Linked DNA regions of Homo sapiens: regions 2, 3 and 4 are each linked to region 1. The links come from fine-mapping of genetic effects on gene expression. A gene starts in region 1. Each other region holds a variant in brackets. All regions are shown on one strand. Distances are between the middles of the regions.

Region 1 (8,033 bases):
AGGATGGTTTCGATCTCCTGACCTTGTGACCTGCCCGCCTCGGCCTCCCAAAGTGTTGAGATTACAGGCGTGAGCCACTGCGCCTGGCCCCTTCTCTTTCTTTCTTTCTCTTTTGCTTTCTTTCTTTTTCTTTTCTTTCTTTTCTCTTTCCTTCCTTCCTCTTTCCTTTCTTTCTTTCTCTCTTTTTCTCTCTCTCTTCCTTTCTTTCTCTCATCCTCACCCTGCCCTGCCCTCCCTCTCCCCTTCCCTCCCTTCCTTCCTTTCTCTTTCTTTTTTCTTTCTTTCTCTTTCCTTCCTCCTTCTTTCTTTTGAAATTTTTCAAACACACATTACCACTACATTTTAATAGTTTGATTGTATCCTTGATGAGAGAGATTGTTAGTCGCCACCAATATTATACATCCTTTGCTTCTTTCTTAGCAACAGAACTCACCGTTTGTAGCTGGGTGTGTGGTCACTTGGCACAGGCTACATTTCCCAGCCTTCTTTGCTCTTGGGTGTGCCCATGTGATTAAGTTCTGGCCAATGGGAAGTATGTATGTTTGCTTATGGGTGTGCACGCATGTGTGTGCACGTGTTTGTACATGCATATCATTTCCAAGGAAGCGTCGTTCGGGGAGCAGGTTTGCTCTTCTTCACCCTTTCCTCCGACTTGCTGGCTGGAGGGGGAAGACACACTGTGGTAATGGCAAAGTAGCAACACAGAAGGGGCCCGTGTTAGGCCATTCTCGAATTGCTATAAAGAAATACTTGAGACTGGGTAATTTATAAAGAAAAAAAGTTTAATTGGCATTCTTAAGAGAAAGCAATAATTTCTTTTTCTTTCTTTTTTTTTTTTTTTGAGACAGAGTTTCGCTCTTGTTGCCCAGGCTGGAGTGCAATGGTGCGGTCTCGGCTCACCGCAACCTCTGCCTCCCAGGTTCAAGCAATTCTCCTGCCTCAGCCTCCAGAGTAGCTGGGATTATAGGCATGTGCCACCATGCCTGGTTAATTTTGTATTTTTAGTAGAGACGGGGTTTCTCCATATTGGTCAGGTTGGTCTTAAACTCCCAACCTCAGGGGATCCACCTGCCTTGGCCTCCCAAAGTGCTGGGATTACAAGCGTGAGCCACCACGCTCAGCCACAAGAAAGCAGTAATTTCTTAGTATCATTATATGTTCAAATAGTGCTTAAGAGGTTCCACAGGCTGTTCAGGAAGCATGGCGCTGGCATCTGCTTAGCTTCTGGTGAAGCCTCAGGGAGCTTTTAGTCTTGGTGGAAGGAGAGAAGGGGGAACAGGCAGGTCACATGGTGAAAGCAGGCAGAAGCTCCAGAGAGTAGGGGGAGGTGCCACCCATTTTTAAGTGAGAAGATCTCATGTGAACTTAGAGAGAGCTCACTTATGGCCAAGGGGATGGCCCAAGCCATTCATGAGGGATCTGATGACCCAAACGCCTCCCACCAGGCCAGACCTCCAACACTGTGGATTACAATTCAACATGAGATTTGAGTTCAGACTATCTCAGGGCCTACATTCCTGATCATGAGGAATAAGACCACCTGCATCCACACAGCTTAGCCATCAGGACTGAGACCTAAGATCTCTGTGTCAACATGACTTACTATTTGATCCAGGAGATTCTTGTTCAGGAATATTAGACTGTAAACCAATACGTGCTTTCACTGTTTGCCTCAACAAATTCCTGAAAAAGCATTTATTGTAACAAAAGATTGCTTATCTTTACATATAACCCCCTTCTCTGGATAACAGTATAACCACCCAAGGGGTTCACCTTCCCTGCTGCCTAGAGAGAGCTGATTCATCAGGACAGGAGGATTGCAATAGAGTCATTCACACAGAGCTGGCTGTGCAGGAGATTGGAGTTTTATTATTACTCAAATCAGTCTCCCTGAACATTCAGGGAGCAGAGTTTTTAAAGACAACTTGGTGGGTCGGGGGAGGCCAGTGAGCCAGGAGTGCTGATTGGTCAGGGAGGAAATCATAGGGAGTCGGAGCTGTCTTCTTGTGCTGAGTCAGTTCCTGGGCGGGGGCCACAAGATCAGATGAGCCTGTTTGTTGATCTGGGTGGTGCCAGCTGAGCCATCAAGGGGAGGATCTGCAAAATGTCTCAAGCACTGATCTTAGGAGCAGTTTAGGGAGGGTCAGAATCTTGTAGCCTCCAGCTGCATGACTCCTAAACCATAATTTCTAATTTGTGGCTAATGTTAGTCCTACAAAGGCAATCTAGTCCCCAGGCAAGTAGGAGGTTGGTGGGCAGGGTGCTGTGGTTCACTCCTGTAATACCACCACTCTGGGAGGCTGAGGCAGGCAGATCACAAGGTCAGGAGTTTGAGACCGGCCTGACCAACATGGTGAAAGCCCGTCTCTACTAAAAATAAAAAAATTAGCTGGGCACTCGCCTGTAATCCCAGCTACTCGGGAGGCTGAGGCAGGAGGGCAGGAGAATCACTTGAACCCAGGAGGTGGAGGTTGCAGTGAGCCAAGATCGTGCCACTGCACTCCAGCCTGGGCAACAGAGTAAGACTCCATCTCAAAACAAACAAACAAACAAAAAAACAAAAAAAACCTAAGGAAAAAAATAGCAAAAAGTAGCCAGGCGTGGTGGCACATGCCTGTAGTCACAGCTACTCAGAAGGCTGAGGTGGGAGGTTCACTTGAGGCCAGGTGATGATGCTGCAGACGGCTATGATTATGCCACTGCCCTCAAGCCTGGGGAACAGAGTGAGACTGTTTCAAGAAAAAAAAAATGGAAATAAAGTTTTTTGTGATTGGTTGATGTCTCAAGTCTGTTTTTTCTTCAAAATGTTTAACTGAAGTATAATATACATATAAAAGCTTGCAAATCATAAATGAATGTATGGCTCAACAAATTTCCCAATCTCTTTTAATCTATAGATTGACCATTCCCCTCTTTTTTTCCTTTGGAATTTGATAAAGAATATATTTGTCTTGTACCGTTTCCCACAGTCTGTACTTTGCCAATTGTTTTTCATGGTGTCATTTAGCATGTTCCTCTATTCTGTATTTCCTGTAAACTGGTGGTTGCATCTAGAAGTTCAGCAGGTCAGGTGAATTTTTTTTTTTTTTTTTTTTTTTGACACGGAGTCTTGCTGGAGTCCAGCCCAGGCTGGAGTGCAGGGCAGGTGGCGTGATCTTGCCTCACTGCAACCTCTGCCCAGGTTCAAGTGATTCTCCTGCCTCAGCCTCCCAAGTAGCTGGGATTACAGGCATCTGGCACCACACCCGGCTACTTTTTGTATTTTTAGTGGAGACGAGGTCTCACCGTGTTGACCAGGATGGTCTCAAACTCCTGACCTCAGGTGATCCACCCACCTAGGTCTCCCAGACTGTTGGGATTACAGGCGTGAGCCACCGCAACGGCGTTAAAGCGTCTTTTGAAGGTGGATGTGATTTTTTTTTTTTTTTTTGGGACGGAGTCTCGCTCTGTCGACCAGGCTGGGGTGCAGTGGCGCGATCTCGGCTCACTGCAAGCTCTGCCTCCAGGGTTCACGCCATTCTCCTGCCTCAGACTCCCAAGTAGCTGGGACTACAGGCGCCCGCCACCACGCCCGGCTAATCTGTTGTATTTTTAGTAGAGACAGGGATTTCACCGTGTTAGCCAGGATGGTCTCGATCTCCTGACCTCGTGATCCGCCCACCTCGGCCTCCCAAAGTGCTGAGATTACAGGCGTGAGCCACCGCGCCCGGCCGGTGGATGTGATTTCTACAAACAAGCAAAAGCCAGTCAGACTGAATGTAGTGAATAATGTAGGTGACCCAGCTGGAAGATGATGGTTTGACGTGGAACACAAGGGGTGATGAGGCCATGAATGATTTGCTTGTGTGTCTGGTAAACTGGCTTTGATGGAAATTCCTAAACAGGTCCAAAAACGTTCTGTCCAATGGCAGCATGAAATGTACAGCCACTCAGGGTGACTAATGTGAACGGAACAACAGTGACTTTGACAGTGAAATTGCATGTTGGTTATAAAACCAGCTTTGCTGTGTGGGTGGGCATGCGAGGTGCCCCTTTCTAGTCATGAGCTCCTCTTAAGGACCCCAAAATGTCTCAGTGGTACCGGATTGAAAATTGGGGCTGGACGGTGCTCTCCTGCTGAAATTCGGGAGCTACTTAGCAGCCCCACCTTGGCACCCTCGTTTCCGAGGGGCAGGCCCTGGGCGCGCGTCTCAGTTTCAAGCCCGCGGCCCGACACTAGAGCCGTCTGGATGTGTTGACAAGGATGCCGCTGGGCTCCACCCGGGCTCACCCGGGCCCTCCCGAGCCCTGGGCCGCGCAGCACCGGCGTCCGCCTCCTCCCCATTACTCGGCGAGAATGCGGTCGGGGCACTGGCGCGAGCAGCCTGGTGCTCCTGAACAGTCAACAAGAAATGAGGAAGCACGGGGGCAGCCGCCAGGGCGACCAGAGGCAGGCCTCAGAGCAGCAGCCATACGGGAGGGCCCCGGTGGTTTTGACCTCCCGCAAACTTCCCTTTTCCCGCTCAGCCGAACCCCTCCCCTGCACGCCGGCAGCCCCTTGGGGCTTCACTCCGCCTCCGCCCGCTACTCGCGAAGCCCAGCCCGGCCCCGCCCCCAACAAGTGACGCAAAACTGGGAGGGGCCACGAGGACCTCGGGCACATCCAGCAGTGCGACGGGGCCGGCGCCTTCTCCGAGCTCCTCCCACGCTCGCGGGTCGGAGCTCGCGCCTGCGCAGTTCGGGCCCCGGGTGTCCTCCCCCCTCCCCTTTCTTAGCAACCATCGCCCGCTCCCGCCCCCGCTCCCTCGGCCGCGGCCGCGCACGCGCGCCCCTCCCGGCGCCCGGCCCCGCCCACCCCGTCACCCGTAACAACCACAAGTGCCGTCGCCGCGCCCCTTCCCCCTCCCGCCTCCCCGGCCCCCTCCCCGGAACCGGCGGTCGAGCTACGGTCGCGGAGCAGTGGAACCGAGACTGCCCCGCGGAGCCGCCGGTATGAGCGCCCCTCGCCACCCCGTGTCCCAGGCCCGGCCTTTCTGACAAGAGGTAGGCGCGTCGTCGCGGCGGGTCCGAGTGCGCCCTCGCCCCGGTCCCGGTCTCCGTGGAGTCCGGCGCCTCTCGGGCGGGCCCCCCGGAACTCCCGGCCGCCCGCTTGCTGAGCCTGTCCCTCCCCAGCCCCGGCTGCCATCGGCCCGGCACCCGAAACGGGCCGTGCCCCCGCCCCCCTGCTCGCCCTCCGCCCCCCTGCTCGCCCCTCGCCGCCCCTCGCCCCCCTCCCCCGCCCCCACCCCCACCTCGCCAGGCTTCCAGTTCCCGGGAGCCGCTTTTTGCTGAGAGCGGAGTTTCGGGTCCGGAGCCAGTGCCCGCCCCTCTCTCCCGTCGGTCGGGGCTTTGGCCCCGTGGGGCTCAGCCGCGCGGGACCCCTGCTGAGCAGCCCCGGGCGCCGGCCGCCCCTCGAGCCTGCTCGGGATGCGTTCAGTGGGTCTGGCCTTTGGCTCCTGTTTAAACAGCGATTGTCATGCAATGGAGGCCGTCCGGCTCCTGGATGCCACTTGGTCGTTGTCACTCCGGATGCCCGCGTAGGGCGTTTATCTGGACCAGAGCATCGGCAGCTGAGACCTGGCTGTGGTTCACAAGCTCGTGAATTAGCAGGTTCTTAAGTGAGTGTAGCCAGTTCTGCCAGGCGGTGGAATCCTGAATGGATGTTACCGTTTCTTAAACGAGCATTACGCTTTTTTGCTTCTTCCCCCAACTCTTGTTTGTACCCGGTTATCGTCCTCATATCTGGGAGAGTACCCTAAAATTAATATTCCCAATTAAATTTTTAAAAGATGATTGGATTCCCACTGTGCACCAACACTGTAAGGTTTGCAAAAGAAAAAGAACGTGGTCCCAGCACATCAGGATGTGTCAGTCGCATAATCAAGATGAATATTAGAAAAGCTTCAAGTTGAGTTTGGAGAACTTGGGAGTTTGGCTCTCATTCTCATGGTTTTAGAGGTGGAAGTCTTTCAAGATCATCTCCCCGAAAACCTCATTTTACAGAGATGAAACTGAGTCCTAGGGAAGTCAAATGGCTTACTCGTGGTCACCCAGAGTCATTCCTTAGCCGTTTTCACACTGTCAGATGGCGATGTTTTCCACCATGACCTCTCCTCTGAGAGGTATGCCAGACATACCAGAGAAAGTTCCAAACCTGTTTAAACCTTAGTACTATAGATGGGAATTCTATACCAGGCGCCGTGACTCATGACTATAATCCTAGCACTTTGGGAGGCTGAAGTGGGCAGATCCCTTGAGCCCAGGAGTTTGAGACCAGCCTGGGCAACATGGGGAAACCTTCTACAAAAAATATATATGGTGGTGCGTGCCTGTGGTCCCAGCTACTTGGGAGGCTGAGGCAGGAGGATCACTTGAGCTTAGAAGGTGGAGGCTGCAGTGAGTGGAGATTGTGCCACTGTGTTCCACCTTGGGCAACAGAGAGACACCCTGTCTCAAAAAAAAAAAAAAAAAAAAAGGAATCTTGGAAGTTTCTGAAATAAAATACATCTTGGTAATTTGTCTCTCTCTTTTTTTTTTAACAGCTAGACTTCGGGCTCCTTGAGGATATTCAGTTTTGTATGTTTGAATATCCTCTCACCATGTTCAGCATAAAGTACCATTCTTAATGATTATCCTCAACAAGACAGGTAGGCTCATTCGATTTTTCTTTCTCACTTTAAATAGGGGAGACAGAGGACTGGCAAGTCCAGGTGTGTTTTTAGAGCAATCCGTGTAGGCTGGCGCTAGAGAATGATTATGCACCCATAAGGAGGGCTCCTTGACTGTGAATTAGGTGTGAACATTTAACCGATTACTTACGGATATTAGCTATCTGAGGCTAGAGATTTCAGTGGAGCCTGTTTAGCCAGAATACTTGGCATCTCTGCCACTCGAAGACAGGTCGCCAAAGCTGTAGTGTACACAGTTAGAAAATAGGAATTGACACGTTTCCTTTGAAGCTAGCTTTTGAGGAGTATTCCATAGTTTGAGATACAGTAGTATTTTTTTCCAGTTTTATTTTTGTTTTCCCAGAGCTAATATCTTAACACGAGATCATTTTTATTTGGCTTCTAGTAGAAGTTGTTTAAGAGAAAATGATCCAAGCATTAATTATATTGGTTATTAGAATAATAGAATCATAACAGTTCATTGCTGGAAAGGACTCAGGTCAGGTCATGTAATGAATGCAGAGTCCCAGTAAGCCAATGAGAGGATTGGACCCCTCTCACACCAGTACTGTTTGCCTCATTGCATTGGGGCTTTGTCTGCTTTTTCTTATTGTTTAATTACCTCCCCCTGCCCTCATGTATTTAAATATCATCTTTTCATTTTTGTGTGCATAGAATTATGACCTATTGTGGTCTCTTTCTGTCGTTAGAGTGTGGTATGATGTGTCAGTGCAGACTTACTAATAATTTGTTTCTGCATTGTGGTTACTTATCACATATATTTATGTTTTGCAGGTGTGAGAGGGTTGCTGTTGTATTGCAATCATGGTGCAGAAATACCAGTCCCCAGTGAGGGTGTACAAATACCCCTTTGAATTAATTATGGCTGTAAGTACTTGACATTTCAATTTACTCTTTGGCTTCTTATTTATAAAGTACAGTGTTAGAATTTGATGATCTATAGATTTATTGTTCGTCTCCATGGCATCACTTGAACTTACTCTGTTTTTATGCTTATGAACCGTATCTAGAGTGTGTAAAATGTTTTTAAAATACAAGCCTCTGAAAATAAAAATCTGCTTATTAAAAAAAATGCACCTCAGGGTAATGTATGAATTGAAGTTAATTCTCCCTTTGAACACACAGAAGTGGGATTCTAAGCACTTCTTCCTCGGGGTTGTGCTCTTTTTTTCCTTCGTTAGAGTAGCAAAGGGACATGGAGTGTGGTCTTTGCTGCTCGTGTGGAAGAGTGCTCTGCCTATGGGTGAATTCACTTTAGGTGGTGTTAGAACTGAGCACTGTGCGATGGAGTTTTACTCACGATTCAAATGACTCTGTTGAATGAGT
Region 2 (8,033 bases), 40 kb before region 1:
AGACCAGCCTGGCCAACATGCTGAAACCCTGTCTCTACTAAAAATACAAAAATTAGCCAGGCGTTATGTTGCGTACCTATAATCCCAGCTACTCGGGAGGCTGAGGCAGGAGAACCGCATGAACCTGGGAGGCAGCGGTTGCAGTGAGCCGAGATAGCGCCACTACACTCCAGCCTGGGTGACAGTGAGACTCCATCTCAAAAAAAAAAAGTCACCGTGGGACACAAGCCCTGTATCAGAAAAGGTATAGAAATTAAAGAACAGTTAAGTCAAGATTTTGAATTTCTCTCTTCGTCCACTAGAGGATGTAATCCAACACCAGACTGTGTTCTCTGATGTAACTTGGTATAGAGTTTGGGTTTTGGGGCTTTTTTGTTCTGTTTTGATTTGTGTAATTTAGCCAAGACTTTCTGTGACCAAAAAGTTATGTCTGTTGTAACTTGGTACAGAGTTTGGATTTTGGGGTTTTTTTGTTTTGTTTTGATTTGTGTAATTTAGCCAAGACTTTCTGTCACCAAAAAGTTATGCAGAAGATTCATCTGCGGGGCTGGGCTCTTAGTTACGAATCTGTCCGGTTGTCCCAGTGGAATCAGTCCAGGTGTCTTGGTTCGTGATAAGTGCTTTCCTTGGAAGCGTTTATCATGTCAGGAACCAAGCACAGGCACTGCACGTGGAGATAAGAGCGTGTTCTAATACATTTCTCCGTTCCAATGTACTCCCAGTGCCAGCTGGTGAGAACATCGGGAAAGATTTTCTTTGTAAGGAATCCAGTGTTAACACGTACCAGTATTTGAAGTCCCAGACAGTGTGCATTAAGGGTTTAGAAGTGTCTCTGGCATGAACATTGCTTATAACTTGAAATTGACAGGTACTTATCAAGACCAAACAAAGTTTGCACAAAGCCAGCACAGTTAAGAGTGCTGATTGTGGCCGGGCACGGTGGCTCACGCCTGTAATCCCAGCACTTTGGGAGGCCGAGGCGGGCGGATCACAAGGTCAAGAGATCAAGACCATCCTGGCCAACATGGTGAAACCCCGTCTCTATTAAAAGTACAAAAATTAGCCGGGCGTAGTGGCGCACGCCTGTAATCCCAACTACTCGGGAGGCTGAGGCAGGAGAATCTCTTAAACCTGGGAGGCAGAGGTTGCAGTGAGCCGGGATTGTGCCACTGCACTCCAGCCTGGCGACAGAGCAAGACTCCATCTCAAGAAAAAAAATTTAAAAAAAAGAGTGCTGATTGTTAGCTGGTGGGAAAGTGGACTTGCTGGGTGGGGGCGGGGGAGTGGGGAGAATGACCATTCTGAAAGTGTAATCTTCAACAGAGTACTGTACGTTCTCTGGCTTATTAGCCCGGTGAACAGCTTTCTGATGGTTTTAGTTGAACAAGTATTGCTGGATATGTTAAAATACAGCCAGAGGCAAAACATACTCCCTCCTCTCAGAGAACTTATATCCCAGGATAGGGGAGACTGGAAACAGGTCATTAGAATATGCAGAATAACAGATGAGTGCTATGGAGAGAAAGACAGCAGCCCCACTACGGAGGAGCACGGGATGGGGTTTGCAATTTTAGATGGGTGGCCTTTAACCAAATCCTTCAGTGAGAGTAAGTCACATGATGACCAGGAAGAGCACCCCAGCAGGGGAGGCAGCCAGTGCCCTGGCACACAAGCAAAAGGAGTTGATGAGAGGGCTGGGGGGCTGAGGCCAGATCTCATGGGGCCTCACATGGAGGAAAGTGTGGGACTTCTGCCTTTTCTCTGAATAGTGTCCGTAGCTTACATATTCTATCTACTCTTGCCTTTTAGGAACCATTTTTCCCTCTAATGGTAGTTTACGTTAGAAGTATTTCCTGTTCTAGGCCCGGTGCAGTGGCTCATGTCTGTAATCCCAGCACTTTGGGAGGCCAAGGCAGGTGGATCACCTGAGGTCAGGAGTTCGAAACCAGCCTGGCCAACATGGCAAAACCCCATCTCTACTAAAAATACAAAAATTAGTCAGGCGTGGTGGTGCATACCTGTAATCCCAGCTACTCGGGAGGCTGAGGTACGAGAAATGCCAGAACCCAGGAGGCAGAGGTTGCAGTAAGCCATCGTCGTGCCACTGGACTTCAGCCTGGGCGACAGTGAGACTGTCTCAAAAAAAAAAAAAAGTATTTCCTGTTCCTACACATTGGCCCATTGAGAGGATCCCAGGTCTATGCATGGGGACACCGTCTTTTTGGCTCATGTTGAGCCACATGTCCTGCAGTATTTGGAAGTGTTCTGGGACAGACTTTGTTCACATAAAGATCGCGTGCCCTTCACTGCAGTGATGAAGCTGGAGACTGTCTTTCTCTGTGACAAGGACCTCAGCCCTGGATCTGTCCTCTCCTAGTGCCCACCTCATTCATGGAGCTCACCCCGTGGTTTTGGAATTGTTTCCTTCCCTGTGCCTTAGCTTCCCTGAACACTACTTCTACACTAGCTCCTTGAGAGTGGGAGCCCTGGACTTATTGCTTTTTCAACAGAGTAGATATGTGTGTTTCATTTATATCAGTATTTAAATTGCTAGCAACAAGACCACAAAAACTACATTCTCATAGAAGCCTGTTTGGGTTTGATGTGGTTACATGTGATTAATGTATTTGAAATAGTTATTTGTTGTGATTTTTTTTTTCAGATCAATTATGCAGCTACAGCCAAAACCAAGTTCTTTTTATTGCAATGGTAATGAAAGGAGCCCCGTGTAAGTCACTGGAAGGTCACATGTTCACAGACTGTCAGCTGTGGAGGGTTATGTAACAGTGGTTATGCAATGCCACGTTAGAACTACAGCCCGAGCAGCAAAACATTTAGATAATTTTATTGAATTAAAATAAGACTTCCACTCTCTTTGAATGACAAATCCCTTTTAACAAAACCAAGACTTGGGTTTTAATGTTGACTCCCACACGAGGCTCCGTAAGCCACATTTTACCTTCTATGCGTGGCTGGCCCCATTGAGTAGATTTCTGAAAGTCAAATTTCTGACATGAGCCTATTTGAAAACTTTGCTCAGTTGTCATCTTCTATCAGGATGAGTTATGGACGAAGCCCCCCATAAATCCTAAGGCACATCTTGAAGCCCCTAAAATCCAAAGGCATGGCCGGGCTCACATCTGTAATCCCAGCACTTTGGGAGGCCAAGGCGGGTGGATCACTTTGAGGTCAGGAGTTCGAGGCAAGCCTGGCCAACATGGTGAAACCTCGTCTCTACTAAAAATACAAATATTACCCGGGTGTGGTGGCACACTCCTGTAATGCCAGCTACTTGGAGGCTGAGGCAGGAGAATCACTTGAACGTGGGAGGTGGAGGTTGCAGTGAGCTGAGATCACCCCACTGCATTCCAGCCTGGATGACAGAGTGAGACTCTCTCAAACAAAAACAAAAAAAATCCTAAGGTACGTGAGTCTCCTTCACTAATGTACTGTCTTTGTTCCAAGATACTTCACCCCTTCGAAAGTTAACGGGGAAGATCAAAAGGAGGTATTAAGAGATCAAAATGAAATAAAGGCTTCATGCGTTTTTTGTTGTTTTTTTTTAACATGCCCCAGCATTACAACAAAAACATGTCTTTTTGTTTAAAAAAATTTTTTTTCCCAAAGTAATACATGCATTAGTTCAAAAAATTCATAGAACTAAAAGGCTTCTAACACTAGGCTAAGCTTCCCTGCTCTGGCGCTCCCAGCGGGAGCCATTTTCCATTCCTTCAGCTTCGCTGGTTTTGTTTCCGAGGAGCGGGCGTGCTGCGCTGCTTCTCTTTGAGTCATCTGGGTCCTCGCCTGTTGACTTTCTTCCTGGTAGATGTGGACTGACCTCTTCCTGGTAGATGTGGACTGACTTCTGCCTA[T/G]TCACCCTCTGCTTCCCCTTCTGCACCCTCCGAGCACTGTGGTCATCTGTACATGCGGCATTCACGTTAGTGCGCATGCGCAAAAGGTGCCTACCGCCCTGCGCTGCAGTGTGTGCATTCTGTATTGTTGTCCCTGTTAATTTCCCCTTCCTTGGCTGGCTTTTTCTTTTTTTTTTTTTCTTTTCTTTCTCTCTCTCTCTCTTTTTTTTTTTTTTTTTTTTTTTTTTGAGACAGAGTCTCACTCTGTTGCCCAGGCTGGATTGCAGTGCTGTGATCTCGGCTCACTGAAACCTCTGCCTCCTGGGTTCAAGCAAATCTCCTGCCTCAGCCTCCAGAGTAGCTGGGACTACAGGCGCCCACCACCACGCCCGGCTAATTTTTGTATTTTTAGTAGAGACAGGGTTTCACCATGTTGGTCAGGCTGGCCTCAAACTCCTGACCTCAAGCGATCCACCCACCTCGGCCTCCCAAAGTGCTGGGATTACAGGAGTGAGCCACCGCGCCCAGCCTGGGCTTTCTCTGAACCTGCTGCTAAATTCTTCCCACACTTCCTGGTGGCCTCTCAGCGTAACTTTACGTAAGGTCAATCAAGTTAATTTATCCATTCCAATTTTTTTCTTAGATGAGTGAGAGAAGACTTTTCATACAATTGATTAAAGTTTTGTTACAATATTGTATGCAGGGGTCAGGCTGTAGTAGTCCAATTCATAAGTTCACATTTAGGTAGGGATATTTTATAGGAAAATATAAGAGCTGGATTATTGTTGTTAGGCCAAATCTAGAGTCACAGGCTGATGGTTCTGACAGGCAGCTGGTTGGGTAACTGGTTTCCCAGAAAACTCCTTCCCAATCTTGCCAGTCTCTACCCAGAAGCAAGTTATGAATTTATTAATTATATCAGGTAGAAAGGGCTCTGTCCCAAGCCTGGTTTAGTGTTAAGCATATAGTCCCTCTCTTTTTTTTTTTTGAGACAGAGTCTCGCCCTGTTGCTCTGTTGCCCAGGCTGGAGTGCAATGGCACAATCTCGGCTCACTGCAACCCCAGTCTCCCAGGTTCAAGCAATTATCCTGTGCCTCCTGAGAAGCTGGGATTACAGGCGCACACCACGCCAGGCTAATTTTTGTATTTTTAGTAGAGATGGCGTTTCACCATGTTGGCCAGGCTGGTCCCGAACTCCTGACCTCAGGTGACCCGCCCACCTCAGCCTCCCAAAGTGCTGGGATTACAGGCATGAGCCACTGTTCCCGGCCCCTCTTTTTTGACCAGACATAATAACTGTCATGGTTAAATCCCTGTCTTGGTTCAGAAGGCCCACGTTGTTGCATTTTTGGTCTAAGAATATAAGTGAATTTGTTGTCTAGTTGAGTGCTTCCCAAACAATTTGCAAAGGACTCCCCTGGGGATCCCATCAAAATGCAGCTTCTGGTGGTTCTGTGGGTCTGGCCTGGGCTGGAGATTCGGCAGTTCTCACAAGCTCCCAGGCCATGCTGATACTGCTGGTCTGAGGACCACTCGGTCCTTTCTCAGGGATGGTGGGACTTAGGCGTGGACTTACTTTGTAGAACACATCATCCTGACTATTGGTGGTGCTCATTTACACGTTGATGTAATTCCTTTAAACCAGCGTCCTGTGTTAGGGAAAACGTTCCCAACAGTCCCGTTGCGGTCACCATTTCTTGTAGTTTATTCACCAGGGTCTCTATGTCATGCAAGCTGGGTTCTCTGAGGTCTCTTATTTACATAGGTACATCAAGAGGCAATGATTAACATCCAAAGACCTCTTTGCTATTTGCTTAACAAAACTGCAGTCATCTGTTGGGGAAATATAATTTAAAAACAAAATCCCCCAACCCAGAAAGCCTCGCCACAAAAGTAAAAGCAAAAGAAAACAATTTTATGATTGAATAAGCATTAAACCAAAACGCGTTGAGCATCACAGGCAGCCCACTGAAAGAACTGCAGAGACAAATCTCCCGCTTTGATACAGCTAAGTGGATACAGCCCATGCACTGTGTAAGTGGGTTTTGCCATTTAGAATCAGGTGACAGCTGAAGTTGGGATCATCCCCTCCGGAAAACAGTTATCTTCCTTGATGATTACAGTTCACGTGGGTGGCTCAGGTCCTTGGGGAAACATGACTTGAGTTGGGGGAAACTGGCAGGAGACTCATTTAACCACTTGAAAGCTGTATACACTTTTGAAAAGGACAGAGAAAGAAATTCTGAAAGGATATGGAAGTGAAGGGTATCTTCCCTTGTTTTCTTTCTCTTCTTTTTTCTTTTTTTCTTTTTTTTGAGAGGGAGTCTCACTCTATTGCCCAGCCTGGAGTGCAGTGGCGTGATCTCGGCTCACTGCAACCTCCCCCTCCCAGGTTCAAGTGATTCTCCTACCTCAGCCTCATGAGTAGCTGGGATTACAGGCACATGCCACCACACCGAGCTAATTTTTGTATTTTTAGTAGACACAGGGTTTCACCATGTTGGCCAGGCTGGTCTCAAGCTCCTGACTTCAGGTGATCCTCCCACCTTGGCTTCCCAAAGTGCTGGGATTACAAGCATAAGCCACCATGTCTGGCCTTTTTTGTTTATTTTAAAGACAGAGTCTTACTTTGTGGCTCAGGCTGGAGTACAGTGGTGTGATCATGGCTTGCTGTGACCTCGAACTCCTGGGCTCGAGGGATCCCCCCTACTCAGCCTCCCAAGTAGCTGGGACTATACAGGTGCATGCCACCATGCCTGGCTAATTGTTTTACTATTTTTTAGTAGAAGCGAGGTCTCACTATATTGCCCAGACTGGACTCGAACTCCTGGCTTCAAGTGATCCTCCACCTCGGCCTCCTAAAGTACTGAAATACAGGCATGAGCACTGCTTGGCCTGAAATGATTTTTCTTTCTTTTTTTTTTGAGAGGGAGTCTTCCTCTGTAGTCCGGTCTGGAGTGCAGTGGCACGATCTCAGCTCACTGTAACCTCTGCCTCCCAGGTTCAAGCAATTCTCCCACCTCAGCCTCCTGAGTAGCTGGGATTACAGGCACATGTGACCATGCCTGGCTAATTTTTGTATTTTTAGTAGAAATGGGGTTTCACCATGTTGGCCAAGCTGGTCTAGAACTCCTGACCTCAGGTGATCCACCTGCCTCGGCCTCCCAAAGTCCCGGGATTACAGGCATGAGCTACCATGCCCAGCCAGATTTTTCTTTTTTGTTGTTGTTTTTTTTTTGTTGTTGTTTTGTTTTGTTTTTGAGACAGAACCTCACCCCAGGCTGGAGGGCAGTGGTGTCATCTCAGCTCACTGCAACCTCTGCCTCCTGGGCTCAAGCGATTCTCCTGCCTCAGCCTCCCAAGTAGCTGGGATTACAGGCATGCGCCCCCATGCCCAGCTGATTTTGTGTATTTTAGTAGAGACGATATTTTGCCATGTTGGCCAGGCCAGTCTTGAACTCCTGATCTCAAGTGATCCTCTTGTCTCGGCCTCCCAAAGTGCTTCTCCATGGCAGTAGTTACTGTCCCCAGCCCTTGCAGTCATCCTTTCCAATAGTCTCTCCTCCTACGCCTGGATTTGTTTTTCATTTGACACTGAGCTGCCAGAAGGCCCGGCTCCATGGGGTTATGAGGATACAATGCACAGCGGGAAGACCGTGGATCCAGGCGGCACCGGGCGGGGTCCCAGTGCCACCTGCTTATGACCTGCTCCAGAGCCTGTGCACTCGCTGACCCTGCCACCTGGCACGCCCTGCCCCTGTCCTTCCCACTCCCTCTTGTGAGTCAGCTCACAGCTCAATACCACCAGGGAGGCCCTCCCTCTCTTCCCACCGTAAAGTAGGAACCCCATCTTCACTTTGTCCCAAGATCATCAAAGCAGAGACCGTATCCAAAGGACTCTTTTTTGTATTTACTTTTTTTTTTTTTTTTTTGAGACAGAGTCTCCTCTGTCACCCAGGCTAGAGTGCAGTGGTGCGATCTCGGCTCACTGCAACCTCCGCCTTCTGGGTTCAAGCAATTCTCCTGCCTCAGTCAGCCTCCTGAGTAGCTGGGATTACAGGTGCCTGCCACCACGCCCAGCTAATTTTTGTATTTTTAGTAGAGACGGGATTTCACCATTTGGCCAGAATGGTCTCAATCTCCTGACCTCATGATCCACCCGCCTCAGCCTCCCAAAGTGCT
Region 3 (8,033 bases), 27 kb before region 1:
GGAAGAGATACAGGACAATACAAAGACAACAAGAAAAAGATAACCAGTCACAGTTACATCTCTTTTTTCTTATAGAGATGATATCTTGCTATGTTGCCCAGGCTGGTCTCAAACTCCCAGCCTCACGTGATCCTCCTGCCTGGGCCTCCCAAAGTGCTGGGATCATAGGCGTGGGTCACAGAGCCCACCAAGTTACTGTTTGTTGTAAGGGTTAAAACAGAGGGAACTTCATTAGCATGCTGACTTGAGACTGAAACTGGCCTCCTTGGGAAATTAGGCTGCTATTTCTCTCGCCTGATTTCTTGGGAAGTCAGATAACAACTCAGTGTTGGTTTGCTGAGCACGGGTGACTCCATTTTGATTTTTGTCTGGTCTTTTGGGGCCTAGTGCAGGAGTTTAGTCCAAAACAAGGGCCTCCTATGATTTTTGTTTAACACTCTGAAAGAGAACGAACTGAAACTAACTGTTCAAAGGTATATTTTCTCTTTGCTTTCTGTAGCTTTTATTGTTTAATGCTCAGCCTTGGAAGGATATGCCGTTCCATATGTTCTAAAAGGAACAAAACAGTCTACCAGTACTTAGCATCTACTCATTTCCAGCCACTAGAGTCCCCAGCCTCACCACAGTTTAGCAGACTGTTAGCTGTTACATTAACTAAATGCGTAAAATGCTGATATCCTAATATGCCTCTTTTTTTGAAAATAGCATCATAATTCATCATAATTTGTAGGCTCGCAAACATTTTCTTGGAATCCACTGGACTCCCCCATGCTTTTTAATTCCGTACTTTCTGTGCAAGCAACACAATAGTTGGAACTGACTTCAGGCCAACTGCTTCCTTTTAACTTTTGTCATGTTACCCAGAATAGAGGCATGGAGTTGTTTACCCGGTTTTCATTGAGGAACATTCTTTGTCTTCCAAGGAATACATAAGAAGCCTTCCTGTCTCAGAACACCAAGCTCTGAAAGGTGACTTTTCTGCTCGAGTAATTACACTGGTTGACTGAGCTCCGGAAAGGAAACGCATTCTTGGTTGCAGAGAGAGGAAGTGGCTTGCATTGTTGGACAAAAAGAAAAATGATTGTTTCCTAGGGTCACTGTCCTCAGCCTCCCTTTAGAGAGCCTGGATCTTGCAGCCATCAGTTATGGAAGTGGCTCTGGGAATAACTTTGCCCTGGGTGATGATTGTTGATGAAAAGAGTCGAAGTGTATAAAATATTTGAAGAGATTTATTCTGAGCCAAATATGAGTGACCATGGCCAGAGACACAGCCCTCAGGAGGTCCTGAGAACATTTGCCCATGGTGGTCAGGACGCAGCTTGGTTTAAACATTTTAGAGAGGTATGAGACATCAATCAAATACATTTAAGAAATACATTGGGGCTGGCTGGGCGCGGTGGCTCATGCCTATAATCCCAGCACTTTGGGAGGCTGAGGTGGGTGGATCATGAGGTCAGGAGATTGAGACCATCCTGGCTAACAGGGTGAAACCCCATCTCTACTAAAAAAAAATACAAAAAATTAACTGGGCGTGTTGGCAGGCACCTGTAGTCCCAGCTACTCGGGAGGCTGAGGCAGGAGAATGGTGTGAACCCGGGAGTTTGCAGTGAGCCAAGATTGTGCCACTGCACTCCAGCTTGGGCGACAGAGTGAGACTCTGTCTCAAAAAAAAAAAAAAAAAAAAAAGAAATACATTGGGGCTGGGCACAGTGGCTCACTCCTGTAATCCCAGCACTTTGGGAGGCCGAGGCAGGAGGATCACTTGAGGTCAAGAATTTGAGACCAGCCTTGCCAACATGGTGAAACCTCATCTCTGCAAAAATACAAAAATTAGCCGGGTATGGTGGCAGGCACCCGTAATCCCAGCTACTCGGGAAGCTGAGGCAGAAGGATCGCTTGAACCCAGGAGGCAGAGGTTGGAGTGAGCCGAGGTTGTGCCATTGCACTGGGTGACAGAGCGAGACTCTGTCTCAAAAAGAAAAAAAAAAAAAAAAAATACATGTGTGTGGTCCAGAAAGGCGGGACAACTCAAAGCCGGGGGTGGGATTCCGGGCTATACGTGAATTTAAAGATTTTTTGGTTGACAATTTTTTGGCTGAGTTTGTCTAAAGACGTGGGATTGATAGAAAGGGAATGTTGAGGTTAAGATAAAAGATTGTGGAGACCAAAGTTCTTTTGAAGTGTTTTTTTTTTTTTTGAGACAGAGTCTCGCTTTGTCGCCCAGGTTGGAGTGCAGTGGGGCAAAAGCCACAGACACTCAAGGCCAGCCAGTGCAAGCAGCCGGCAGCCGGGAGGGGGGCTGAACCCCAAAAAGCCACAGGGATGGAGCTGCCCAAGGCCATGGGAGCCCACCTCTTGCATCAGTGTGACCTGGATGTGAGACATGGAGTCAAAGGGGATCATTTGGAACTTTAAGGTTTAATGACTGCCCTATTAGATTTTGGACTTGCATGGGGCCTGTAGCCCCTTTGTTTTACCCAATTTCTTCCGTGTAGAGTGGGTATATTTACCCAATGCCTGAACCCCCATTGTATGTAGGAAGTAATTAAGTTGCTTTCAATTTTACAGGCTCATAGGAGGAAGGGACTTGCCTTGTCTCAGATGAGACTTTGGACTTGGACTTTTGGGTTAATGCTGGAATAAGCTAAGACTTTGGGAGACAGTTAGAAAGGCATGATTGTGTTTTGAAATGTGAGGACATGAGATTTGGGAGGGGCCAGGGGCAGAATGATACAGTTTGTCCGTGTCCCCCACCCAAATCTCATCTTGAATTATAGTTTCCATAATTCCCAAGTGTCCTGGGAGGAACCCGGTGGGAGGTAACTGAATCATGGGAGCAGTTACTGCCAGGCTGTTCTCGTGTTAGTGAGTGAGTTCTCAGGAGATCTGATGGTTTTATAAGGGCCCTTTCCCCGCTTTGCTCAGCACTTCTCCTTCCTACTGCCCTGTGAAGAAAGTGCCTTTCTTCCCCTTTGCCTTCCACCATGATTGTAAGTTTCCTGAGACTTTCCTAGCCATGCAGGACTGTGAGTCCATTAAACCTCTTTACTTATAAATTAGCCAGTCTCGGGTCTCTCTTCATAGCAGTGTGAGAACAGACTAATGCAGGGGGGCTATTATGTTGCCAATCACAGGTATATAATAAAAAGTTAAGAATTATAATTTCTAAGTGGTAGGATTTCCCTTAATCCTTTTCTCTTATCTATATTTTCAGAAGTTTTCCCAGGAATACACATACTGCTTTTGAAATGAGAAGAATGAAATCTCATTTATAGTCTATATTGACGTCTTTGCAATGTTCATTAATCCACCTCTCAGGACAGCCCTGAGAAGTGCATACTGTTCCTGAACAGTTAACAGTTACAAAGATGAATTGAAAAGTATTTAGGCGGCCAGGCGTGGTGGCTCACACCTGTAATCCCAGCACTTTGGGAGGCCGAGGTGGGTGGATCACGAGGTCAGGAGATCGAGACCATCCTGGCTAACACGGTGAAACCCCATCTCTACTAAAAATACAAAAAAATATGGTGGGCACCTGTAGTCCCAGCTACTTGGGAGGCTGAGGCAGGAGAATGGTGTGAACCTGGGAGGTGGAGCTTGCAGTGAGCCAAGATCGCGCCACTGCATTCCAGCCTGGGCGACAGAGCGAGACTCAAAAAAAAAAAAGAGTACTTAGGCATAATGGGTCATGCCTGTACTTCTAGCACTTTGGGAGGCCGAGGTGGAAGGATCACTTAAGACCAGGAGTTCGAGACCAGCCTAGGCAGCAAAGCAAGACTCTTTCTCTACAAAAAAATTAATCAGGCATAGTGACATGTGCCTGTAGTCCTAGCTACTTCGGAGGCTGAGGTAGGAGGATCACTTGAGCCCAAGAGGTTGAGGCTGCACTGAGCCAAGATCGTACCACTTCACTCCAGCCCAGACATTAGAGCAAGACCTTGTCTCGAAAAACAAAAAAAAGAAAGAAAAGAAAAATAATGCTTTTTACTAGGATTTTTACAATATGTGAAACGAATTCTATCTTGAGAACAGAGTATTGGTATTGCCAGTAATATTTTAAAGTTCTTTTGCTTCCAAAAAGGAAGGTCACCTTCCCTGTCTATAAGAAGTCAGTGCCACCTTGGCCCACAGAACCTCAGATTCTCACCTCTGCCTTCCCAGCCAGCCTTCCCTTCTTGGGCACTTTTCTGGGACACAGGCTGAATGCACCCAAAAATGCATCAGCAGGCTTGATAAAGAACGAGTTAAGGCTGGGCTCAGTGGCTCACACCTGTAATCTCAGCACTTTGGGAGGCCGAGGCAGGTGGATCACCTGAGTTCAGCAGTTCTAGACCAGCCTGGCCAACATGGTGAAACCCTGTCTCTACTAAAAATATAAAAAAATTAGCCAGGTGTGGTAGCACATGCCTGTAGACCCAGCTATTCAAAAGGCTGAGGCACGAGAATTGCTTGAACCCAGGAAGCAGAGGTTGCTATGAGCCGAAATTGCGCCACTGCACTCCAGCCTGGGTGACAGAGTGAGACTCTGTCTCAAAAAGAAAAGAAAAGAAAAAGTTGAAACACCAACCAAGGTAAGTTCATCTCCCTTCTAAGCCACCCATGAGACACTGCTGGGGTGAAGAAGTCACTGTCTGTGGCAAAAACCATTTAGATGAGAAGTGGACACCCTTAAAGCTTCCGCTTCCCTCTGCAGTACAGCAAAGAGTTAAGCATGATAGGTTAGTTTCTATTATTCCCA[C/T]CTTGTGCAGAGATTCAATGTCCCCTACCCTACTCACAGGCCTAAAATGCTCCCCAGGCACAGCCTTCTGGTCCCAGGAGAGAGATCCCGGCTGCTAAATGCGGGTGCAAATAAAATCAGCAAAGGGCGCCCTGGATGTGAAGGAGGTGTGGGTGTCAGCCTGCAATCCCCACCTGCAGCAAGATCATTTTTATAAAACCCTTTGTTTGGCCACCTGGATATCTGTGACAAATGATCCCAGGAGCCACTGCCTTCCCTCCACCCCACCACATGATTCAAAAGGCAGGCACTGGCTGGGCAAGGTGGCTCACGCCTGTAATCCCAGCACTTTGGGAGGCCAAGGTGGGCAGATCATGAGGTCAGGAGTTCGAGACCAGCCTGACCAACATGGTGAAAATCCTGTCTCTACCAAAAATACAAAAATTAGCTGGGCATGGTGGCGATCACCTGAAATCCCAGCCACTCAGGAGGCTGAGGCAGGAGAATCGCTTGAACCTGGGAGGCGGAGGTTGCAGTGAGCCGAGATCGCGCCACTGCACTCCAGCCTAGGTGACAGAGCTAGACTCCATCCCAAAACAAACAAACAAAAAAGGCAGGCACTGGCCAGGCACAGTAGCTCACTCCTGTAATCCCAGCACTTTGGGAGGCCAAGGCGGGCAGATCACCTAAGGTCGGGAGTTCGAGACCAGCCTGGCCAACATGGTGAAACCCCGTCTCTACTAAAAATACAAAAATTAGCTGGGCATGGTGGCGCATGCCTGTAGTCCCAGCTACTTGGGAGGCTGAGGCAGGAGAATTGCTTGAACCCAGGAGGTGGAGGTTGCAGTGAGCCGAGATTGCGCCATTGCACTCCAGCCTGGGCGACAAGAGCAAAACTTCATCTCCAAAAAAAAAAAAAAAAAAAAAAGGAGGCAGGCACACACTTGAAACAAGCCATTAAGTCCCAGTAGCATTTTCTGGAGGCTCCCAGCTATAGCAGGAACACAGGTCTCTTCTCAGTTCCTGAGAAGAGAACTGTTTTCTTGTTTTGCCTTTAGTCATTTACTTGAACCACTCCAGAAAACTGCCCGTCCTGCTGCTGCCTGCCTCTGACCATGTACCAGTCACAAATAAACTGGGAAATGCAAACGTGGGTGTTTTATATAACTTGCAGCCCCTGCATCTGCAGCTGTGTATTTTGTTTAAAGCTGCAAGCCCGGCCGGGCACGGTGGCTCATGCCTGTAATCCCAGCACTTTGGGAGGCCGAGGTGGGTGGATCATGAGGTCAGGAGTTCAAGACCAGCCTAACCAACATGGTGAAACCCCATCTCTACTAAAAATACAAAAATTAGCTGGGCGTGGTGGTGTGCGCCTGTAATCTCAGCTACTTGGGAGGCTGAGGTGGAAGCATTGCTTGAACCCGGGAGGCAGAGGTTGTAGTGAGCTGAGATCGTGCCATTGCACTCCAGCCTGGGCAATAAGAGCGAAACTCCATCTCAAAAAAATAAATAAATAAAAAAGCTGCAAGCCCTTCTGCTTTTCCTTTGGTGGCAAAGTTTGGTCAAGGGTGTTTTCAACAATAATTCCACTTGTTTCAGGCCCCTTTTGGGGCTCAGACCCTTGCTCCTGACTGTGGCTGTGAAGGGGTGGAGGTCTAGGGCCTTCATTCTGGGTGGCTGCTGTTCTTCCCTGATGCTGCCCCCTCCAAGAGAAGGGATATTTTAGGCGCTGATTACATTGTGAGTTGTTGCAACCAAAGGAGCATGTTCTCTTGCTTTCAAAACACAGGAAACAAATCACTGTTTTCTAAGTGAAAAGGAACAAAATCAGCACTGAGAGAGGTCGTGGGAGCTGTTTTCCAAGTATCTCAGAATACTTGGCAGGATGAAGCAAGAAGACCTATATTTAAAATCTTCTTTATCAAGGCCTGTTTGAAGTCAGTTTATTGTTTGGTAAAGAAAAGAAGACAAAAGTTTTGACTCTCCTTTTTTTTTTTTTTTAAATTTTGAGACAGAGTCTCACTCTCACCCAGGCTGGAGTGCATTGGCACCATTACTGCTCATCGCAGCCTCCAACTCCTGGGCTCAGGCGATCCTCCTGCCTCAGCCTCCTAAATAGTTGGGACTACAGGTGCACACCACCAGGTTCAGCGAATTTTTATTTTTATTTGTAGAGATGGGGTCTCACTATGTTGCCCAGGTTGGTCTCAAACTCCTGAGCTCAAGCATTCCTCCTGCCTCAGTCCCCCAAAGTGTTGGGATTATAGGGATGAGCCACCACACCCGGCTGACATACATATTTTTAAATGCTGTAAAAATTCACATTGATTTAAACGTTTTAGGGGTCTTTGCTGTTGCAAGAAATTTGTGTGCCTGAGGAATCCCTAAATAAGGCAGCCTGTTGTGAGAACTATAATAATGATGTGAGTAAAACCCGGAGCCAGAACCCAGAAGAAGGAGAAATTAATTCTGACCCTTAAATCTCGGTGTCACACAGAGGAAATGAACCGGGAAGGATGGTGTGGGATTGTGGAGGGCAGAGGTTGGGAGAAAAGACCTTCCAGTTGGAAGAGGCTCAAAGTAAAGTTCTGGAGTGGGAACTTGGGAGGAGGCACCTGCTCCTGTCTGAACAGAGAGCCATGTGACGGACCTGGTTTTCAGCCCCTGGCTCTTGGGGCAGAGTAAAACTGAAAGGCTCATATTTTTCATCATTGTTTGCATATTGTGTTTTACAAGTCTGAGAAGTAGTACAGACATAAATTTGCTACAAAGCCAATTTGGAATTTGAAGGGACATTTTTATCAGTAACAGGATGTTTGAACAAACTTGGAATTTCATGGACTTTTCCACAACCCTCTTTCATGTCTGTAAGGAGCTTACCTGGCAGGATGCTCTGGGGTAAGTGGGACTGTAGAAGTCCCCTGTCTCATCCACCACTGCAGCTGTGAGAGGGGGCTGGGGCCATGGGTGGGAGGATTTTTGGACCATGATTCCAGGCGGACACCCCATCTTTACAAAATTAAATGGTAAGCATCCTCTTCATTTGCTGTAATTGGCTGTCTCTGGTGTTAGTTGAGTTCCATTTACCCAACAGTTTTCCGTCTTTATCTATTCCCTGCAGTAAATGCAATGGAAGGCCGGGCGCAGTGGCTCATGCCTGTAATCCCAGCATTTTGGGAGGCCGAGGCGGGTGGATCACGTGAGGTCAGGAGTTCGAGACCAGCCTGGCCAACATGGTAAAACCCTGTCTCTACTAAAAATACAAAATTAGCCGGGCATGGTGACACATGCCTATAGTCCCAGCTACTTGGGAGGC
Region 4 (8,033 bases), 34 kb after region 1:
ATCTCTGGGCTGGTGATGATGGCCTGCAAATTCAAGGGGTGCAGTTTGTGCTAAAAGGCCTTGAGTCCTAAGAGAGGAAAGGGTGGAAGACAGACCTGATACATAGTTTTTGAGAAATTCATCCTTTGTTTCAAAAGTGGGAATGTCAGTATTAGAGTTTAAGTAAGGCAGTCCATAAAGCATTTCATAAGGAGAGAGGCCAGTGTCCTTTTGCGGGGCTGTTTGGACTCTGAACAGGGCAATAGGAAGGCATTTTGTCCGAGGTAGCTGGGTTTTTAAAATTAGTTGGGTTAAATGATTTTTTAAAGTTTGGTTCATTCTTTCTACTTTTCCTGATGAGGGTGGATGCCTTGGTGTATGATATTCCCATTTTATTCCTAGTGCTTGAGTGAGCCCTTTAATAACGAGGGCAGTGAATTGGGTTCTATTGTCTGAATCAGTGTTTTCTATAATTCCAAACCTAGGTATAATTTGTTTTAATAAGGTTTTAACTACATGTTTAGCTGTTGTGTTTGGGAAAGGGATGGCCTCTACCCAGTGGGTGAGATGATCTACTATTATTAATAAATAGTTAACATGGCCTACTGGGGGCATTTCAGTGTAATGAATTTGAATTTTTTGGAATGGCGTTAACCCTGAGTTTTTTCCCCCAAGGGCTTGCATCTTATTTGTTGATTTATTAGTTTTTTTTGCATATTATACAACTATCCACAATTTACCTAGCAAGGGTATAGATTTCTATACACCCATAAACTCCGAGAGCGGCATCACACATAGCCTGGGGACCCCAGTGAGTTCCTTGATGGAGTTGAGACAACATCCCTCTTATGAGAGGTTTAGGCAACATTTCCCTCTCATCTGGTAATATTCGTTTTTCTTCTGAGCTTTCTTTGGCTCCTATTTCATTTAACTTTTCTTGTTTGTTATGGGAAAAGACGGGGACTGTGGCTGGGGGAGGGAGACAAGGAGTTAAATGGAAAATGGGTTCCCGTTGGGGAAGAGGCAGCTTGCTTGGCTATTTGGTCAGCAAGATTATTCCCTCAGCTTCTAAAGGAAAGATTTCTTTGATACCTGGGACGTGAACAACAGCTATTTGTTCTGGCAACTATAGATTTTCTAATACTTGAATTATTATGTCCCTGTGGACTAAGTTACTGTTAATGAGGCCTTGCTCTGTTCAAATTTTTCCAAGGTGTGGACCACTCCAAAAGCATACTTGGAGTCTGTATAAATAGTTCCTTCCTGGTTTTGCAGAAATTTTAAGGCTTGATTTAATGCAAACAGCTCACATGTTTGCGCAGAGCAGGTGCAGACCCGTTATTAGGTAATCTTCCCGATTTTATTTCTGTGAGGATATCTCCGTTTACTACTGAGTACCCGTTATGCCTTTTTTCTTTTATTACTTGCCTCGATTTCCTTCTTTTGACCATACATCTGGATGGATGTATCCTTTATCTAGGGTAGTGAGCAAATTTAGGGAGGGGAGGAATTTTTCTTGGTTAACATAGAGGTCTGGGTTTAATTTTAGCATTAAATCTCTTCCTAAATAGGTTTGTTCCTGCCTCCGGGATTAACAGAAGTTTAATATTTACTGAGCGGTCCTTATATTTAATTTCTGTTTCTTCTAAGATTTTTGCTTTAAACCCCTCTTCTTTTACTCCCGAAATAAAAAGTTTTTCCTGTGAACAAGTTACACCAGGGGGAAGATAACAAACTGAGGAGCGAGCAGCTCCTGAATCAATGAAAAAGGTGATAAGCTCAGGTTTGGGTCCCACCTCTAAATTTATCAAGGGCTCTTGGTGGGACTTGAGGTAAAAAAAAGAGTGGAGCCCTTGACCGCCGTATTCTTCCTCCAAGGTCATGAGTAGAATGACTTCTTTCTCTTTTTCCCATCTGGGACATTCCTTTTTAAAGTGGCCTATTTTTCCACACTTGAAGCATTTGTTTTGCCCTTTTCCCTCTCTACTTTTGGGTTCTTTGGCTGTGCTGTTTTATAGCCTTTATATGGCCTGGAAAGTGGGGGCTTAAGTTCTTTATAGGTTTTGGCCCCTGAGTGTTCTGTTGTGGGGCGGACAGCATGATCCTTGCTTTTTGTTTTTGCTTTTCTTTTCCTCGTCTTTTCGTACATATACCTTTTGAGCGTCTCTCAAAAGCTGCTCTATAGATTTATCTTTCCAGTTCTCTATTTTCTATAACGTGTTTTGTGATGTCTGGCCAACTATTGGTAACAAAATGGAGCTTTAACATCCCCTGCCCAAGAGGGTCTTCTAAACCTAGACCTGCATATATCCTCGCTTGCTCCTTGAGCCTTTCTAAGAACTCTGTAGGTCCTTCATCCTTCCCTTGTTGTATATAGAAAGCTTTGGGAATGTTTTGGATGCGGAATACAGATTTTTGAGTTCCTTTAATTATCAGTTCTCCAAGGTCTTGCATATTCCTCCAGTAGGCTGCGTTGTTACTATCCCATTGAGGATCTGTGGCCGCAAGTTTTTGCTCAGCTGCTGGGACGTTCTGACCTGGGGGATGCTCACGTTCCCAAATTGTCATAGCAGCCCTGCGAATCATGCTCCTGTCTTCTCCTAAAAAGCGAATACCTAGGATAGACATTAGCTCAGCCCAAGTATATATCTGGGGTCTGAGAAATTGATTAATCTGGTCAGCCACTATATAAGGGTCACTTAAGAGTGGTTTGAGCTCCCTTTGTAGGTTTCGGACCTCTGAGCTAGTTAATGGAGCATTTAGCCTCCTCTGAGGGGCACTTCCCTTAAGGGGAAGAGAGTTGGAGCTAACTCTTTAGAAGTGGTGGGGAAAGGGAAGTTTTGAATATCCTTTTTACATTGTTCTGTCTCGCACCGAAGTCTTCCTGGGGGAGGGCCCTGAGGCTGGGAATGATTCCAGGAGTTAGGATTATAAAGAGGGGGCACAACGTGAGTCGGGGGAAGGGTCCAGGGCGGCTGCCTGAGGGGGAGGGAGGTGAGAGGTATCTGGCTGAGGCAGATGGTCTAAAGGATCCCATGTGGGTTGCTTAGGGGTGGGGGCCTTAGTTTCTATAGGGTAAGTAGTTTCTGGCTTATTCTTACTGGCTTTGAGGGGGTAGAGGTGGACAGGCCCCTGCCGTCAGCACAGGGCATAGCGTATCTCCTCCTGAGGGACAGGACTCTTGTTATTCACATACTCTATTAAAAGTTGACAAATCCAATCCTCATTTGACCCAAACTGTAGCCAGAAAACTGATGGTTTGAGGATAGTTTCCTTAGTCCAAATAAAACAACAGTATTTTATCATTTGTTGCTTTTTCTTATTTTTAGTCCTTTCATTATCTTTCCAGTATTTTAGCAGGAGACCTAAGGGGCTGTCCCGGGAAATTCTATTGTCTTGCTTGGGGTATTTCGCATCCTGGAGAAGGTGTTTTTTTGAGTTTGTGAGGCTCAACCTCTCTTACTAGAGATTTCTTGCACCCTTTCTTTTTTTCTTTTTTTTTTTTTAAGGTGGAGTCTTGCTCTGTTGCCCAGGCAGGAGTGCAATGGCACGATCTCCGCTCACTGCAGCCTCTGCCTCCTGGGTTCAAGCGATTCTTCTGCCTCAGCCTCCCAAGTAGCTGGGACTACAGGCACACACCACCACACCTGGCTAATTTTTTGTATTTTATTTATTTATTTATTTCCTTGGTAGAGATGGGGTTGCACCATGTTGGCCAGGCTGGTCTTGAACTCCTGACCTTGTGATCTGCCTACCTCAGCCTCCCAAAGTGCTGGGATTA[C/T]AGGCATGAGCCACTGCGCCTGGCCTCTTGCACTCTTTCTTTAGAGGCCCAACCCCCCTTACTTGAGATTTCTTGCATTCTTTTGCTTCTGCTTAATCCTTCTCTGGCTGCTTCCTTTGTGGGAATTTTCAGGTCCCCCTTAGCGTTGGTGGGTCGGTATGATCCCCCGACAGGCAAGACAGGCAAGCTGTCCTAAGCTGTATGAGGTGACCACGGAACCACAGATCCGGACTCCACACTCAATTGTGCGTCTCATTCACACACTTTCAACCTCCAGGATGTCCTGACCACCAAGGAAATACTGCACTGCCATTGTGTTTTTTCTTAACCTTTGTCTCTGCACAGAGTTACCTGGTCACTGTGGTATTTGTAGGCCTTTTTCTCCCGCGTTGCTAAGCGTCCGGGTTTATTCGTCACACCAGGTGGGTCTCGATCCCTAACCCTTGAGGCCACCACAACGAGGCAGTGGGACCTGTCTCCTCACGAGTGAGGACTGGAGACCCTTCCCCAGAGGAGAATGGGAATCCTGGATGGGCCCCCAGATTGTTGGGAACAAGTAAGCTGTGCTCAAGAGAAAAACTAGCACTGAGACAAAGGATTTCTCAGCAAGGCAATTTACTTTTGCAGAAGGGTGCCGCCTGCATCTGTTACGACTGCAAGAGCACACTGAACAAAGGAGGGAAGGGGTTTTTATCCCTAACGCAGTTCCTGTCGGTGTCCTTCCCCTGTTGGCTAGGATTGGACTGTACAATCTAAACTGATCCCAGTTGGCTAAGACTTAAAACTTTTTTGAATAGGATAAACGCATGATTTGTAAGAGAAAGAGGGGATAGGAGCAGTCTGTCTGTTACAGTACAAGGTATGTCTGGACTTGTGTGAGCATGTCAGGGCACAACAAGAGCAGGAGGGTTGTTTGCAGGCCAGAAACAAGAGAGTATAAGGAGGTTGGGCTTCTGAACAAAGAACAAGGACGTTACACAGTTAAACCCTTTGAAGAGGAATTCATCATCTCTGGCGCTAGTATTGTTGCAGGATTCAGGAGGACGAGAGAGAGATCTCGGGTTAAAACAGGAGAATCTTTTATTGAGTGCACTCAGGCCCAGCAGATTCACACCCAAAGGTTGGGCTCAGAACAAAGACAGCACTTGACTTTTATACACACTTCACAGAAGGGGGTGGGCTAGCTAAAGCAAGCTTATAGTGGCGTGAAAGCAGGGATACAGAGGTGGGACAAAGACAGTTAATTAAATCGTTACAGGTTCATAACTCAGGATTGCACATAACTGTTGCTATGCAACCCAGATGTCCGTTATCTGTGTTTGCCTAGGCATGGACTTATCCTATAACCTTCACTGTGGTGCCCGGGCAGCTGTAGTTCCGGCCTACTCAGGCTTTTCATGACCTTCATTGTATTTCTTAGATAAAACAATACTTGAAGTCACTAGTTACAGAGAACAGGAATCTATAAACTCATTCTATAAAACAAAGAAAAATTTGTTTTTTCTTCTCCCTGTGTTGAGGGAGTGCTGGGAAAGTCTCCAGAGCACATTAGATAATATTATCAAGACTTTTCCTGGGTCTCGGCTGTGCCTGTTGCTGCCTCTGGGACAAATCAGCCTAATACAGGAAAACTTATTTCTCTTTCTTTTAAATTTTATTTTTCTTTAATTTCCGGCCTCCGTGTAGCTGAGCCCAGGGCTTTTTATGGGCTCAGAATAGGGAGTGTGTGCTGATTGGTTTGTGAGTATGCAAAAAAGGTTAAAGTGAAGACACCACTCAAAGGTGGGCATGATAGTGTAGAAAACCAATTAGGAGACTGGACATGGTGGCTCATGCCTGTAATCCCAGCACTTTGGGAGGCCAGGGTAGGTGGATCACCTGAGGTCAGGAGTTTGAGACCAGCCTGACCAACATGGTGAAACCCTGTCTCTACTAAAAAGGCAAAAATTAGCTGAGCGTGGTGCTGCACACCTGTAATCCCAGCTACTCAGGAGGCTGAGGCAGGAGAATCACTCAAACCCAGCAGGCAGAGGTTGCAGCGAGCCGAGATCATGCTATTACACTCCAGCTTGGGCAATAAGAGCGAAACTCAGTCTTGAAAAAAAAAAAGTAAACCAATTAGGAAAGGATAGGTATATGTAAAATAGGTGAAAGACGGATCAATCAGAGGAAACTGTGCCAAATGAGAAGGTGGGTTCTCAGTCCCGTGTGAGGATTTACCCAGGACTCTCTCCAGATTGAAGGTTGGATTTCACTGGGGACCTGCTCCTGTCTGCCTAGGCATTTGTCTGCCTCCTGCCTCTATCAGTATGTTTGTTAAAATTGATGAACTAATATTGACAACATTATTTTTTCCCCACTGGATGTCTCTTACACAATAATTATGGTTTTTTGTTTGTTCGTTTGTTTTTGAGACAGAGTCTCGCTCTGTTGTCCAGGCTGGAGTGCAATGGCAGAGTCTTGGCTCACTGCATCCTCCACCTCCCAGGTTCAAGTGATTCTCCTGCCTCAGCCTTCTGAGTAGCTGGGATTACAGGTGCCTACCACCATGCCCGGCTAGTTGTTGTATTTTTAGTAGAGACGGGGTGTCTCCATGTTGTTCAGAGTGTTCTTGAACTCCCAACCTCAGGTGATCCGCCCACCTTGACCTCCCAAAGTGCTGGGATTACAGGCGTGAGCCCCTGCACCTGGCCAATTATGTTATTTTTAACTAGAATCTGTAGTTTAGGTTCACTCTGTGTTGTACATGTCTTTGGATTTTGACGATGCAACTTTACACATCCTTAGAAATCCTTCTGATTAAGAATGAAGCAAAGACATTTTTTCTTCAACTTAAGTTTATTATTTTTTCAAATGGTTACTAAGTTATTAGGACATAAATGCTTTTTAAATTGTTTGGACATAGTAACTTAATAAATCATCAATTTTTTTGGTCTTGAGGCACCATGAAAGTTACTGAGACATCAAGGAACACATGTGACAGTGCTGAAGGACAAATGTACCCAGATGAGCTGGTCAGGAATGTCTGAGATGATTATGTTCAGGACAGTGAGCAAATTTAAAACATAGAGCCCCCGGGCTGATGTCTGAGATGTCCGTATTGAGATCGTTCAGAAATGTAACAGACAGTAGAATAATGATGGGCCTTATTTTTCTAATTTAAATTTAAATGCAAAAGATACAATTGATCAGGCATACTAGATTATACTTTGAATTTCATTTGAAAGCTCAGTAACTCTATGTCAGCCTATTAAATAGTGTTAACAAAAGTTTCCAGGTAGTCTTGGCTGGAAATTCTTGAAGAAGAATACATTAAAAGTACTTTAAGAGAAAATATTCCAGAAGACCTTGTTAAACCAGTTTTAGCTATGGTTAGTTGCATGTATGTTAGTTTCAGCAAGGAGAGAGGGAATAGTGTTTGTCTTTAACTAGAACAATCTGAAACTGACCCCCTCTTAAAACATTATATCTAATGCTAGATCTGAATAGTAGTCTTGCTTTAGCCAAATGTAGACATGCTAGTGTTTTAGCAGATGATTATTTTTCTTTTGAGCATAATTTTTTGTTTTTATTCTTGTTTTGTGCTTATAGCAGTGGTTCAAAACTTAGAAGCTGTAATCCTCTGCTGGATACTGTGAAATAACTGACATATACCTAGTTCTTTTGTATGGACCAGGAACAATTTTGACAGGACACATGGCTGTCCTATGAAGAGTATAAAATCATAGCCACTGTCATTGGGGGACAGAGTTGGGGGTGTCACAGAGCTGTCAAATTAGGTTTGGTGGGTAATGCCCTAGTTCTTTGCTAAGATTTGCTTGCCTGCCCCTTTGTACTCGTGGCTTTTTCCCTTTCTTCCCCTCCCCCCCCCCTTTTTTTTTTGAGTGCAGTGTTCATGCACTAGCACTTGTTTCTAGGACCCAAAGGTTTAGGGAAATTTATGGCAGAAAATCTTAAAGCGGATGGAGCTGTATTTAGTAGCAGCTTCTCTTGCTCTTGAGGAGGAGACCGTCGTCAGTAATTTTGGTTCATAGCACTCCCATCCCACCTGCCACTCAGAGCTGCAAGAACACGGCCTTCCAGAATAGAGTCAAACACAGTGTGGGTGTCACTAACTTGAGTTATTTTAAGAGGTCAGGAAACAAACCTACTACTGTGTGTTTTTTGACATTATTTTAAAATATAATGTGGATAAATCAGATGAGTGACCTCTCTGTGGAATTAAAACTTTTTACGTGTGAAGTTTTTAATTTTGTGGGTAATTTTTTCAAGG

Evidence for each region.
Region 2: its variant is fine-mapped to the expression of SEC14L1 in whole blood (TOPMed, PIP above 0.99).
Region 3: its variant is fine-mapped to the expression of SEC14L1 in whole blood (TOPMed, PIP above 0.99).
Region 4: its variant is fine-mapped to the expression of SEC14L1 in blood mononuclear cells (TOPMed, PIP 0.96).

The regions. Positions count from the first base shown.
Region 1 is chr17:77,136,086-77,144,118 of GRCh38, forward strand. SEC14L1 (SEC14 like lipid binding 1) reads left to right here and starts at 4,884. Exons shown (of 17, transcript NM_001143998.2): 1 at 4,884-5,022; 2 at 6,561-6,665; 3 at 7,482-7,574. The coding sequence starts at 7,512. It overlaps LOC105371901 (a long non-coding RNA gene), which reads right to left and starts at 5,354. Exons shown (of 5, transcript XR_934988.3): 1 at 5,271-5,354; 2 at 434-659. RefSeq lists silencers at 4,168-4,377, 4,528-4,737, 4,748-5,197, 5,362-5,656.
Region 2 is chr17:77,096,356-77,104,388 of GRCh38, forward strand. It overlaps a transcript of SEC14L1 not described here. Among named protein-coding and RNA genes, the nearest start is that of MIR6516, 11 kb to the left of the region's middle. The variant T/G (reference allele first, on the strand shown) is at 3,873.
Region 3 is chr17:77,109,214-77,117,246 of GRCh38, forward strand. It overlaps a transcript of SEC14L1 not described here. Among named protein-coding and RNA genes, the nearest start is that of MIR6516, 24 kb to the left of the region's middle. The variant C/T (reference allele first, on the strand shown) is at 4,739.
Region 4 is chr17:77,170,434-77,178,466 of GRCh38, forward strand. All of the region lies in intron 3 of SEC14L1 (SEC14 like lipid binding 1), which reads left to right. Among named protein-coding and RNA genes, the nearest start is that of SEC14L1, 33 kb to the left of the region's middle. The variant C/T (reference allele first, on the strand shown) is at 3,761.